2 separate regions of the Homo sapiens genome follow, and region 2 is linked to region 1. Evidence: fine-mapped expression QTL. A gene starts in region 1. The other region holds a variant in brackets. All regions are shown on one strand. Distances are from middle to middle.

Region 1 (4,390 bases):
GTCTACTTTCCCACGTGGCAGCCCTGGCCTGACACTGGCTGTCCCTTCAAGGTAGGAACGTTCTCATTCCCCACAGTTGCCACCACTGTCCAGTGTCCCCAACCCTGAGGCCCCATATCAGTGGCCACAAGTTGCCCTACTGCTGCCGTTGATGTTCTCATGCCCCACCAGCTTCACCTTGGGTCTGGTTCCCGCAAGGGTGAGTTGGAGATCCTTGGTCCTGAGTGAGAAGTGCTTTGTCAGAGGCAGCAGAGGGCGCCATGGGAGCACACAGGAAGGGCGCCTGGGGCTGTGCAGGGACTGCAGAACAGGCTGCACTGGCACACAGGGTTGGCTGCTGGCTGCTGGCTGCTGGCTGCTGGCTGGGTTTCCTCTATTAGCTTAAACAATGGAAGGTGGACTTGGATAGGAAATCTACCTCATGTATTCCTGAGCTGTGTCTGCACCGTTCATTCATTCGTAGGCGACTCATGTATTCAAGCACTCATTTATTTATTAGATGCTTGCTGTGTGCTTAGCACTGTGCCAAGCCCTGTCCTTAGCTACCAAGAGTTTAAAACGTAATTTGGAAGACAGGATATAAGATTATGTCTCCCCTTTGTATTGCGACTCACTCATCAAGTTCTCCCAGCATCTAGCATTCATATCTGGCACTCAGTAGGTGCTCAACAAATATTTGTTGCATAAATGAATGAAAAGATTATTAGTAATAATACCTTTTATTTACTGAGCTCTTCCCAACTTTCCATGTATTGTCGCAATCCTCAAGGTAAGTCCTGATATTATCCTATTTTATTGATAAGAAAAGTAAGGCACAGAGAAGTTAAGTAAACTGCCTAAGGTCACACAGACAGTCTGAAGTCTTAACCACTACTCCAGGTGCATCTCAGCAGTGTGAGGCAGGCCATGCTTAGGGCCAATGCTTAGCACACACAGAGATTGCCTCAGGCTTTCAGAGGACAAAGCAGTCAGGAGGGGCTGGGGCAATAAAGGAAGGCTTCATGGAGACAGAACAAAATAACCAGTGCAGGTAGAAGAAGAGAACCATCTTTCCTGATAGAGAGAGGGGGCAGCAAGCAAGAGGGAGTCCCAGGGTGGATCATCCATACTGGCTTCCAGGGGTGACGGGAAAGGATGCCAGCAAGGACTTCAGCAAGGATCAATCAGCAAATCCGAGGGTGTCTCTCTTGCCAAGCCCCGGGCTGTGTGCATAGGAGAAGGAGAACATGAATGAGAACCTACCTTTGAGGATCTACAGCCAATTGTTGGACAGAGGCAAAATATGTATATAATTTTACTCCAGGAAAGCAAGTGTTGAGAGCCAGAAGTGGTATGAGAATCATAGTCAGGAAGACAGAAACTGTTTCCAAATGGGAAGCACAGAGCAGTCTCCTTGGAAGAGAGTGCATTAGAACTGAGCCGTGGGGGCGGGCAGGATATCACTGTGGAGTAGGGGAAGGGCACTCCTGGGGTGGCAAGGTGGGAGGTGGGCCCTGTGTTCCCACAGTGGGCAGGGAGGTAGTGAAAGGGAAGCTGGCCGGACAGGCAGGGCCATTCCAAGAGGGCTTTGTGCGCAGGGCTAAGCCAAGCTTTCTCCATAGGCAATGGGGAGCAACTGGAGGTTCGTAGCAGGAGAAGGACACATCTTGCCCACCAGGAGGCTAAGTAAAAACAGTTGTCTCCCAAGTTATAAGTTCCTGGAACCCTTGCTGGGAGCAGGATTTAGAAAAATGATGCTGAGAGATGCTAGAAACATATTCGCCCTGAGGCTCTCTCACTCAGACTGCAAGAGGAAGGTATCATCAGAATTGCCCTTAACCAGGAACCAGAATAGCTGGGTCCCCTTCCTGCCAAGTCAGCAACCAGCTATGTGACCTTGCTCAGGTCCATCTCCGGGTGTCAGTTTCTTCATCTACAATGCAAGAGGGTTGCCCACCTCTGAGAACCCTTCTAACCCCAAATCTCACCCTATGAATCTAAGAACACCAACCCCTCGCCATCCTAAGTATCACAGAGCCAGGCAAGCATGGGTGAGAGCTCAGACCATCCTTGTTGGACTAAAAGGAAGGGGCAGACTGCCCATGGGGGGCAGCCGAGAGGGTCAGGCCCCCATAGGTCCTCAGCCTGCTTCAACCTCAAAGGGGATGGGGGGCTGAGTGGTGCCAGAGGAGCAGCAGGCTCGCTCGGGGAGAGTAGGGCCTTAGGATAGAAGGGAAATGAACTAAACAACCAGCTTCCTCCCAAACCAGTTTCAGGCCAGGGCTGGGAATTTCACAAAAAAGCAGAAGGCGCTCTGTGAACATTTCCTGCCCCGCCCCAGCCCCCTTCCTGGCAGCATTACCACACTGCTCACCTGTGAAGCAATCTTCCGGAGACAGGGCCAAAGGGCCAAGTGCCCCAGTCAGGAGCTGCCTATAAATGCCGAGCCTGCACAGCTCTGGCAAACACTCTGTGTGGCTCCTCGGCTTTGGTAAGTGAGCTGCCAGCTTCCCCAGGCAGAAGCCTGCCTGCCGATTCCTTCTTTCCTTCCCTGACCCAACTTCCTTCCAAATCCTCCTCCTAGAAGCCCTCCTTGGTTGGCCCTGCCTACTTTAAAGCTTCTTTCACATTTTCTTAGGTCATGTTCCCCTGGGGCCTCCTGCCCTCAAATGCTTTGCTTTTTGGCACTCTGTAGATATTCTAAAAAATCATTTTGTACATGTGTGTGACAGGCCATCTCCCAGTTAAGTTGCAGCCTGTGCTTTCTTTTTATTTTGCACTTCCCCCACTATTTCTGTGAGTGCTTAGTAGGAAGTGTCAAAGAAGCTTGACAGCATTTTCTTCTAAGTGTCCCAACTCTTGGTTTTCCATTACACAGACAGAGTGCAAGACGATGACTTGCAAAATGTCGCAGCTGGAACGCAACATAGAGACCATCATCAACACCTTCCACCAATACTCTGTGAAGCTGGGGCACCCAGACACCCTGAACCAGGGGGAATTCAAAGAGCTGGTGCGAAAAGATCTGCAAAATTTTCTCAAGGTAGGGCTGGACTCTGGCAGGTCTGACCCAGCCTCACCGCAGTTTGGGTTGACAAGGGAGGATGGGAGTATGGGCTACAGCAATCAAGGGGAAGATTTGAGCTCCTGGAGCCCAGCCCCAAGACGCAGCGAGTGTCCTGTTATACAGGGCAGGTGCTCACAGTTACACAGGACGACAGGGTCAAGAAATTGCTCAATTGAACACCTGCTATTTGTCGGGCCCTGTTCTGGGCAGAGGGATGTAGTGGTAAATGGGGAGCCCACTATTCCAGTGGAGGGAGACACACAGTAAAGTTGTTGGCCAATAAAGAGCACAGATAAAGCCAAATGCCAATAAGTGCCTGGAAGAAAATGAGATAGAGTGCGCTGTGGGCAATGGGGCTGGGTGGGGTGGAGGTGACCAGTTAGGGTACATGAGAAGGGCCTCTTTGAGGAGGTAACATTTGAGCTGAGCCCCGAATGTTGGGGAGGGAAGCCCCTGAGGATGACACTTGGCACAAAGCTGAGGAGACCCTAAGCCTCAGGCGGGAACTTGGGGTGGAAGACTTGGGGGCTTTTCTAATCCTAAGGGTCTGCGGTGGAAAATGAATGCATAAAGAGCACATGGAGAGCACCTGCACAGCACTCAGGGAACTGGGAGGTTTTTCCCCCGCTCCAAAAATGATTAGGCAGTTCTAAGAAAAAGGCTGAGCACTTCCAACAGCCTTTTTGTTTTCTTTTCAAATTTGGGGAAAGTCGGGAAACAGAGGCCTGCATTAAGAAGGGTGGAACACATGGGTCTCAGTCTCAGTTCCAGTCCCGGAGCCAGACATCCTGGGGTAGGTCCCCAGCCCTCCCAGTGCCCCTCCCTCCGCCTTGGTAAGGTGGAGAATTGCAGCCTTCAGAGTTAGGGGCCCTGACAGCTCTCCATAGGTGGAGGCCTCAGGCAGGCAGGATGCTGGGTGGGGTAGGCAAGAAAGGGCCCAGCAGAGAGGCCGCATGGCAAAACTATCCTCCATGTGACCCCCTATGCCCGCTTCACCCCCCACCTGACATCCCCCACCAGAAGCAAAGCGATGCTGTGGGAAAGGAAGCAGAGCCTCATGGATGGGCTGCACAGGAGAGTGCTCGCATTGGCTGGGTACCCCACAGGTTCTGGGAGGGGACTTAGCGAGGTGACTCAGCCAGAGGGTGGCAGAGCTGGAACCAACCAGTGCTCTCTTGGACCCCGCCTGGGTCTGGGTCTTCCACCTCCCCTGATGTCTCTCCTTTTTTTTTTTTTTTTTTTTTTTTTGAGACAGAGTTTCGCTCTTATTGCCCAGGCTGGAGTGCAACGGCACAATCTCGGCTCACCACAACCTCCACCTCCTGGGTTCAAGCGATTCTCCTG
Region 2 (4,390 bases), 36 kb after region 1:
ATTGCGATTGCTAATCCCCTGCATTGGTGGTCAGGCCATACATCCCTGAAACTGAATTGAAGTTGAATGCATCATTTTGAGTGCATGCACTCAGTGAGAACATTCCTCCATGGCTTCTGTCAGAGTTTCAAAGGGTCCAAAGACCGCAAAAGGGTTGAGAACACGTGTCCTGGCTGATGGCTTTTAGTCATGAGAACTATTGTTCTCATTACTAAAAACTAAAACTATCGTTGTTGTTCTTTTGGGTGGGTGCTTTGTGGGGAAATGTGTTGTTGCCAAGGGCTATATCCATTCCTACCCTGCTGCCCACACTCCTCCACAGCTTTCCTGTTCTGTGAAGCTGGGGATGGACCATGCCCTGGGAGATGGAGGCTGCTTGGGGTCCCTCGGCACTTCACAAGGGCCTGAGCCATTGCATAAACACAGCAGGGAGCCTTTCACCCTCTCTTGGTTAATTATTGTGTCTGGGACCCCAGGATCACTGGCTGAAGAGAGGAAGCTAACTCTGAGGTAGTGGAGGGGAAGAGTTCTTTGGAGAAGCCAGACGCGCTTCATGCCTAAGAGGAGAAGAGGAGGTGGCCAATTCCCCAGGATTTCAGGAGGAACAAATCCTCTCCCCACCACTAACAAAATGCTACTCAGATTAACTGGCTTCCAACCTTGAAGACTGTGGTGTGTTTCTGTTGTTACAAAGAAAATATTTGTAAAACAAATATCTGATAAGGGATTAATATCCAGAATATAAAAGAATCCCTACAACTCAACAACAAAAAACAAACAAACCAATCAAAAATTGGGGAAAAGACTCAAATAGACACTTCTCCGAAGAAGATATACAAATGGTCAATAAGCATATGAAAATTACTAATCTTTAGGAAAACATGAAGCAAAACGACAATGAGATACCACCTGACACCTACAAGGATGACTACTACTTCTTTTAAAACCCAGAAAACAAGTGTTGGTGAGGGCATAGAGAATTGGAAGCCTAATGCACTGTTAGTGGGAATGTAAAATAGTGCAGCTGTTATGGAAAACGGCAAGTTTGTTCCTCAAATAAATAAACACAGAATTACCATATGATCCATCATTCTGCTCCTGGGTATATATGCAAAAGAATTGAATGCAGGGATTCAAACAGATGTTTGTACATTCATGTTCATAGCAGCATTATTTACAAGAGCCAAAAGGTGGAAGCAACCCAAGTGTCCCTCAACACATGAATGGATGAAGAAAATGTTTTGTGGGGACATGTGTTGTTGCCGAGGGCTAAATCCATTCCTACCCTGCTGCCCACACTCCTCCACAGCTCTCCTGTTCTGTGAAGCTGGGGATCCACCGTGCCCTGGGAGATGGAGGCTGCTTGGGGTCCCTCTGCATTGCACAAGGGCATGAGCCATTGCATAAACATAGCAGGGAGTCTTTCACCCTCCAAAATAAATCCAGCTCTCTCTGGATGTGAGCCATTGGGGACCCAGCACAGTGCCCAGCACACACAATAACAGCAGCCACAATCACTGATCAGAGCAAATCATGACAAAATACTAGTTCACACTCACTGAGCTTTTCCCATGTCCGGGAACTATTCTAAGTGCTGCTTTATTTGCATTGATCATTTAATTCTCACACTAATCCAATGACGTATGTACTATTATAATGCCCATTGTACAGATGAGGAAACTAAGCCCCACAGAGAGACATAGTAATTCAGCGTATCAAATGATTGAGTGACTCATGATGTGATGTGACAGCATCCACTTCCTATTCCTGCCTGTAATGCCTTTTGTCCCTGTAATGTCCTCCTCACCATTCCTGATCCAGCTCAGGCATCATCTGCTCCAAGTCCATCCCTGATCCACCTGCCCTCACCCCATCAAGGCAGAATTAGTTCTTCTCTCCTCCATGCTACCCAAATCCTTACCCATCACAGCATTTGCCCTGCTATGTTATGATTCACTTGTTTATTGTCTGTCTTTTCTTTGGGACCAGGAGACCATTTAGAAAAGAAATCACATTTCTTTTCACAACCCTAGGGCCTGGCAGCTACTACATGTTCAATTAATACTTATTGAGGGATAAATGAATACAAAATTAAGTTTGACCCTTCCCTTATCCAAGGCAGAAATTCTCTTTATCACAATCAGCCATCTTAAATCATTTCTGGAAGAAGGCAGGGTATAAATTCATCAAACAAATGCAGTCTGACTTCCTTGACAAAAGATGAATCAAGCTCCATCTAGGAAAACAACGCCATTTCTGACATGACAAGTTTTCAACCAAGGATCCACCCTTGGTTAATACCTATTATTCACCACGTACTATCCTATGTGACCAGCATAACAGCACCTGCCTCAAAGCACCATATCATATTTTCAAAGTATTTTGCATCCACTGACTCATTTGATATTCCCAGCAACCTAGTGATGTGGACATTACAAGTATAATTATCCCTATTTGACAGATGGGGAAACTGAGGCACAGGGCATTACTTCAGGTCCTTCCCCTGGTCCAGTGAGGGAGTCCTGAGTGGTGACCTCCTTCCCACATCATGTACAGGCTGACCAGCAAGATCGTGAAATGTCGCCCCCTCCCCAGAAACTGCGCCCCTGGACAGCCTTGGGTGCTTTGGGGACAGCAGGAGCCAGGCTGAACTGACCTTGCAGCAAAAGGTATCAGGACTTGGGTAAGCACATCTGGGGAAAGGCAGAGGCTGTAAGCAGCCTAGCGGACATGGGGCAACCTAGAGGGAG[C/T]GGAACCTGGTCATGTTTACAGGAAAGGGCTCAGTCCCTGGGTGTGTCCCAACAGACCTGACAGGTCCATCCCTGAGGCCAAGGAAATGAGGACAGAGCAGGCAGAGCTGGTGAAGAAACCCCCAGAAGGGGGCAGGAGAGGGCAGGGAGGGCTCAGGCTGGGTGCCCCTGCTTCGTACTCAATGCCTGTGGAGCCCAGCACTTCTCAGGTGAGACAGGTATTTCTCCCCTGGGCCTGCAAGAAGAGTGGCCAAAGTAACTCAGGCGATGGTCTTCATGCCTCTAGACACAGCCAGGGGCCTGCAGGAAGGAGCACAGATCTAGGTCATCAATTCCAGCCCCACAGGCCCCAATTCTGCATTCCTTCCCCAAACACCTGCTGAGCGTTTATGGGGACACTGAGGTCCTGTCTCGGCGGAGAGTACAAAACAAGCACAGTGTGGCAGAAGATGCCCTTCCACAGGAAAGAATGCAAAGGGGAATGGGGTGCAGACATCTCCCAAGGAATGGAGGGCCCAGCTAGGTCCTGAAAGGCAAACTAAGCTGATGGCAAGTGTGGGAGGGACAGCAGGCCAGGCCCGGAGCAGCAGGGGCAAATTCTGCCCCAGAGCCTGACTGATGAGAAACAAGGTCTCCAGCTCAGCTCCAGGGACAATCCACCATGTTTGGCGCAAAGGACCAGGTGGGGAGGGAACCAGACCAAGTTTCTTAAGTGACCCTGCAGTCCTGTGCGCAGGTGGTATATCACCCCCCAACACTCTTTCAAAATCCATGATTTCTATCTCAGTAAGCTCAGGACACCGGTTCCCAGACCAACCCTCAGAAAAGACAACCCTCTAAAGTGGGCTCTGGCATTTCCTGAAGGCAGAGGAGACCCTCCCTAAGGGATTCTGCATTAGATCCCTAGAGTCCCAGGGGAGAGGAAAAGGAAAAAGAAACAGAGCAAGGGCAGGGACAGGTCTCAGGTGGGTGGGGTCAGGGATACCGGAGGACTCAGATCAGTGGTTCATGAATAGCCCTGGGTCAGGAGTAACCCTCACATCCATCATCATGTTGTAGAAAAAAACAGACCCAACCCTTCTCTCCCTCAGGAAGCCTTCCTGGGTTGACTGTCACCCAGGTTCTACTCATTGCTCTTCCCTTAACATGTGTCTGTGGTTCTGCCAGGCTGGATTGTTGGCTCAGCTCCTGTCAGTGTCTGACTCAGCATGTGCAAACCCAGCACACAATATTCCCTGCAGACTGGCTCCCACCCAGGCACCGAGGTCCCATGCCAATCGCCAGCACCTGAAACCTCCACCTCATTCTGGATCCTCCTCTCCCTCAGTCTGCGCCCAGGTCTGGACCTTGATGTTCTGCCTTTTCTGATGCCGCCTCCCTCCCTTCCGTCCCCATGAAGCTGTTTACCTCCTCGTCACAGCCTCTAGCCAGGCTGTGCAGGTCTGATCTGTCTTCCTCCACCCCAAACCCCTACCACTAGTTTCCTAAAGCACAGAGCTGGTCCCAGGGCCCTCGCCCCTTCCCCACACTTAACAACTAAGGATCCCTTACCAAAAGGATAAAGTCCAAATTCCAATGCTCAGTTTTCAGGGACTTCCAGACTCTGGTCCTAACCCACCCATTCAAGCTGACTTCCTACT

The links. PIP is the estimated chance that this variant, and not a neighbour inherited with it, causes the effect. A credible set is the group of variants that fine-mapping cannot tell apart.
Region 2: its variant is the best candidate, but not a certain one, in a credible set for the expression of S100A9 in whole blood (TOPMed, PIP 0.66).

The regions. Positions count from the first base shown.
Region 1 is chr1:153,355,412-153,359,801 of GRCh38, forward strand. S100A9 (S100 calcium binding protein A9) reads left to right here and starts at 2,443. Exons shown (of 3, transcript NM_002965.4): 1 at 2,443-2,470; 2 at 2,858-3,022. The coding sequence starts at 2,873.
Region 2 is chr1:153,391,381-153,395,770 of GRCh38, forward strand. It overlaps a transcript of S100A8 not described here. Among named protein-coding and RNA genes, the nearest start is that of S100A8, 2.5 kb to the left of the region's middle. The variant C/T (reference allele first, on the strand shown) is at 2,751.